2 separate regions of the Homo sapiens genome follow, and region 2 is linked to region 1. The links come from fine-mapping of genetic effects on gene expression. Tissue or cell type: whole blood. Region 1 holds a variant in brackets; the other region holds the start of a gene. All regions are shown on one strand. Distances are from middle to middle.

Evidence for each region. PIP is the estimated chance that this variant, and not a neighbour inherited with it, causes the effect.
Region 2: NR1H3 starts here. The variant in region 1 is fine-mapped to the expression of NR1H3 in whole blood (TOPMed, PIP above 0.99).

What each region holds. Positions count from the first base shown.
Region 1 is chr11:47,324,961-47,327,716 of GRCh38, reverse strand. MADD (MAP kinase activating death domain) reads right to left here. Exons shown (of 37, transcript NM_001376571.1): 34 at 1,165-1,173; 35 at 910-979. Among named protein-coding and RNA genes, the nearest start is that of MYBPC3, 26 kb to the left of the region's middle. The variant CA/A (reference allele first, on the strand shown) is at 1,579.
Region 2 is chr11:47,256,570-47,259,197 of GRCh38, reverse strand. It overlaps NR1H3 (nuclear receptor subfamily 1 group H member 3), which reads right to left and starts at 1,202. Exons shown (of 10, transcript NM_005693.4): 1 at 1,069-1,202; 2 at 1-18.

The DNA.
Region 1 (2,756 bases):
CATCAAAGGTAGAGCAAGAAGCCCCAGGCCATTCTCCCGAGTTGGAAGATTCCCCCAAGTATCTCTCTGACAGAAGAGAGAAGGGAACACACGGGGAGGAAAGTCCAGTGAGCCGGTGAGAAGGGGGAGGCAAGGTAGGAAGAAAGAGGGTAGGGGAGAAAGGAAGAGACGAGCTGGCAGTGTGAGGAGCTGGTTCGATGGGAGCTACCCACCCAGGGCAGGGCCCAAGGCAGAGACCTGGGGAGAGGCAGCACGAGCCGAGGTCACTTTACCTGCTGGAGAACGAAGGTTTTCATAGCAGCGATGAGGGGCACAAAAGAATGAAGCACAAACACAGCAGGAACTCAAAGCCCCAGGGTGAGAACCCACTACACCACTCCCTAGCGCTGGCTCCCAGCTTCCGGCTACAGCTGTCCCGCTAGACTCCTCTGTCCCTCAAGTGAGTCTGCCTGCGACGCCCGGTGCCCCTTTGTCTGGCACAGAGGCCAGGTGGAGACCAGAGCGGCGCCAGGGAGGCTGGCTAGCGCACTGGGCTGCTAGAGAGATTGCAGCAGGTGACATGGACATAGTGGAGCTTGGGGGTCGCCAGTCTGCTGTGTCCCAAACTTTCTGACCACTGGCTGGCCCAGCACGGGGAGGTGGTGCTACTTCACTGAGCTGCTTCAGGACCACCTCTAAACTCGAAACCCACCTGAGGCCCCATTTGCTCTTCTGCGATCCATTATCTATCTTTCCCTTCCACATCCCGGCTCTCATCTCAGGGGTCCCTTTTCTTCCTTGTCACTCCTGCTCCTCCTGACTTCTCTACAGAGGTTCTTCTTCTCCCTGCCCCTAGACCCTCCTCTGGAGCTCCGAGGTTTGAGTTACTGCCATGTGAGTCCAGACCTAAGAGCAAAATAGTGTAATTACCAAATTCCTCCAGGACAAAGACGCCTCGAACTGTATTGCACTTTTTAATGTGATTCAGCTCTATGAAAACCTGCAAGAGAGGGAGGGAGGCCGGGGTAAGGCCCACAGGCTCCACCCCTGCCCCACACAGCACACTCTCCCAGCTACAGCCCCACCCACACAAAGAAAGTCTATTTCCCAAAGAGAGGACAGAAGAATCCACACGCACACAACTCAAAAGCGCTAAGAAGCGAAGATAGCAGAAAGGGCATGTACCTTCCGCTCCTGGCCGGAGGAGAAAGCATGGGAGAGAAATGAAGGCGTTAGTTTGAATGGTCAAACCCAACCCGAAGGCCCTGCTGCTGGCCTGGGCTGCCCGCCCGTACCCTCTGCCCAGGGCAGTGCTTGTAAGACACAGTGCCCCAGGGGTCCCCACTCAGCCCATTAGGTCTCTACCCTTCCATGCATCCTCCTCCGGCGCAGAGGGCTGGCACGGGCGCAAAGCTCCCCTCAGACTGTCCTCAGGGTGGGAGGTGTTGGTATCCTCCTTGAAACAGGATCCAGGATCTCCCAAGAGGTATGTGGTGATAATAATATCAGCTACCACTTGCTGAGCACCTACTTGGGGTTTTACAAATACGATTTCTAATCTCTGCACCTACTACGTGACACAGTAAATAGTATTACCCC[CA/A]TTTTCTACATGAGGAAACTATGGATCAGAAAGTTTCTTTGCCCATGAACGTGGAAGCTGGGCTTCAAATCCAAGCATGTCCTCACACCGAAGCCTGTGCTTTTCCCATTTACCCCAGACTGCACAGCTCCACCAGGAGGTCTGCTGCCTCCTCCACTCCAACTGAACACTGTGTGGCAGAATAGGGGGCAGGTCGCTATCTCATTACTAACTGTGAGGTGAGATTGAGAACCCGGGCTTTCCTCCCCTTCTCTGCAGTCTATCTTCTAGGGGCCAAGCCTTCAACCACAGACTGGCTTGGATGGCTGCCCAGTGGGGCTATGCCAAGGGCAGGACGAGGAACAGGGCAGAGCACCTGGGCGTTGCTCAGCAAGATCTCATCTTCAGAGGCCACGGCGCTAAAATGTGGTCAGAAGTCTGCTCCCCAAGAAGTACTGACACCTTTGTGGTCCAGAAAAGCACTTAGGTAGACCCCTCTCTGGGATGGTCCTAAGGTCTTTGGGGTTGGCTACTGCCCTAAGTCCTAAATTGAAAATATACTAAGGGGCTGCTGGCAGCCTGCGCAGCCATTTCCTGTTAAACCAAAGCTGCCCAGCTACGTTCCTGAAAGAGAGCTACAACGGCTAGCGGAGGGAGGGAGACAGCCACGTCAGTCAGGCATCCACCTCCCCTGAGGGTCTGCGGCCTGGCCAGGGTCTGTGGGGCTTCACACATTTGGGTCTGGCTCAGAGCCTCAGGGAGAGGAACCCGGACATCAGGGAAAGAGGAGGGAAGGCACTTGTGTGAGGAGTCAGAGCTGTGAACGGACCTGGGATGATGCGCTGGCCTCAGAAAGGAATTAGCTTAAGGAATGTCCACTGAGAGAAAAAGGTAACACTGTGTTAAAAGACCAAGAGAGAAAAAAAAAAGTCAGCTCCTATGGTGGAATTACAATGAGGGAAAGATGTATCCACAAGTGCTCCCCAATCAAAAGAAAGGGAATGGGGCCTGTGGAGCAGGGGACAGAGTGGGAACACTCAGAGGAAGGAAAAGAACAGGAAGAAGAATCCGCAGAAGAAAAAGGCAAATAAACACACTCCAGAGAGGACAGATACAAGCTACTTACACACAAGCACGCAGGCACGCACGCACGCACACGCAAGCTGCACGCACACCAGAAAGACACAAGGAGATCGGC
Region 2 (2,628 bases), 68 kb after region 1:
CATTACCAAGGCACTGTCCTGCAGGAAGGACCCAGATTATACTCTTCTAGAACTGGGCTCCTTTCTGGCCTCAGCTCCCTTCTCCACCTGATCCTCCCTTTTATCAATATCAACAATATCAGCTAACATTTACTTGCCATATATTAGCCTGTACTAAGGCTTTATTATATTACTATTATGTTTTTTAGAGACAGGTTCTCCCTATTTTGCCCAGGCTAGTCTAGGAATTCCTGGGCTCAAGTGATCCTCTCACCTGGGCCTCCCAAAGTGTGGGGATTATTGGAGTAAGCCACTGCGCCCAGCCTGTTATAAGGCTTTATGTGCTTTCCTCATAATATCCCTCTGAGGTCAAAACTATTAATTTTTTTTTTGAGATGGGGTCTCTCTATGTTGCCCAGGCTGGAACTCAGTGCTATTCACAGGTGCAATAATAGGACACTATCGCCTCAAACTACTGGGCTGAAGCAATCAGGTTTCAGCTTCCTGAGTATCTGAGATTATGGGCGCACGCTACTGCTCCTGGCTCAGGACTATTCTTAAACTCATTTTACAGATAAGCAAACTGAGGTTCAAAGAGATTAAGTAACTATGGTCACACAGTTAGGCGGCGGTAGAGTCAAGACTCCAACCCTCCTCTGACTCCAAAGTCTGGGCTCCCAGCCACCGTGCCGGCTTTTCTCCCCCAAAGTCCCCTCCAGGCCAGCAGGGAATGTTTGGGTGCATCTGCCCTGCTTCTCTTGGGCCCCTTCCCCCTCACTCCAACACTGAGGACAGCTCACTCCACCCAGTGAAACACGCTGCTTATTAGAGAACCTCGCTCGTGCCACTTTCCAGGGTCCCAGCACAAACCTGTCTCCAAGAATCTCCCCAATTCACATAGAGGACCTCCTCCCCTGAGCCCCTCATGAGTTATTCTGGGACCCAGAGTCCTGCTCCTGTCCCAAGCTTCCATCACCATCACCCCTCACTTCTCCCCAGAAACCCCCTTCTCAGATCCTTAGGACATTCCCCGACCCCACCCCAGATACACACACAGAGCCCCAGGCCACTGCTAAGGAGCAGACCCACCAAATCCCCAGGCCACCAGACTTCCTGGGTGGGCAGTCTCTGGAGCCCCCTTGCTGGGAGAAGAGGATGGTGCAGTTTCCTGTCCAGAAGTCTCGGTGGCCAGCCAGTGAGCTGGAGCTGAGCACAAGCAGGACCTGGAGCCCCAGAGAAGTAGCAATTTGGGGAAAGGCTGAGGGGAGGGACTGCCGAGGGGTCAGGCCACCCCTCCTTCCTGCCTGGTGACCACAGCCCTCCCCTCCTCACCCCCGCCCACAGGGCAGCTTCTCCACCAGGCTGGCTCCTCCCCAGCCGGCCACCCCCTCTCCCGCCACTCCCGCCCCCTACTCCCGGCCAAAACAGTGGCATTTCCCTGCAGACCAGCCAAGTTCCATGTCTCTCCCCTTCCTCTCCTTACCCAGCGCTCTTAGCAGCTCTTGCAAAAGGACTGCCTCCCAGGAACCCCCACCCCAATCCCAGCAGCCTCCAGAATCGTGTTCCCTCCCCTCCATAGGCACCTCGTGGAGCAAAGGTCCCAGCACGGCCCGGAATTGCGACACTGAGCCCCAGCGGCTTTCCCAGCCTCCCTCCTCCTCCCTTGCCTCTGGGAAGAGGCCAAGAAGCTCTCCCCACTAGCCCCAGGCCTCAGCCAAGCTGGTAGAAATCCAGGGGTGGAGAGAGGCAGGTGCTGGGCCTTCCAGGGAGTTTCTGAAAGTGGGTGCCCTGCGGGGGCCACAGATAAGAGAGGAGGCCAGGAGAGCCTTTGATAGGAAATCTGCTATGAGCAGTGGCAGGCCTGGGATAGGGGTGGAGGTGGCAGAAGGAAGACAGGCAACTCAGGTGGCAGCCCAGGATGGACCTGGGAAGGTATGCGGGTTGCCTCTTCTGGGGAACAACCCCATCTGAAGTGATGGCAGGCTCCAACCAGCAGCTACTGAGACTATAGTCATTCTTCCTACTCTGCTGCCTGGGGCATGAAATCCATCCCTGAAAGTAGACATCATATTTTATTGATTTCATCTCCCCCAACACCCCTGAAACAGGGCTGGCATAGATGTGGCAACAGAGTAGGTACTGTGTTCCTATTTGTTGAATGAATAACAAGAAAAATATAATATATTCTCGGCCGGGCGCGGTGGCTCACGCCTGTAATCCCAGCACTTTGGGAGGCCGAGGCAGGCGGATCACGAGGTCAGGAGATCGAGACCATCCTGGCTAACACGGTGAAACCCCGTCTCTCCTAAAAATACAAAAAATTAGCCGGGCATGGTGGCAGGCGCCTGTAGTTCCAGCTACTCGGGAGGCTGAGACAGAAGAATGGCGTGAACCCGGGAGGCAGAGCTTGCAGTGAGCCGAGATTGCGCCACTGCACTCCTGCCTGAGTGACAGAGCGAGACTCTGTCCCCAAAAAAAAAAAAAAAAGAAATATTATTCTCGTCTATCCCGTACTTATTAGCCCTAGTCAATTTTTTTTATTATTCCTTTTTTTTTTTTTTTTTACCTTTTTTGGGGTAGGGTCTCACTATGTTGCCCAGGCTGGCTTCACACTCCTGGGCTCAAGCCATCCTCCCACCTCAGCCTTCC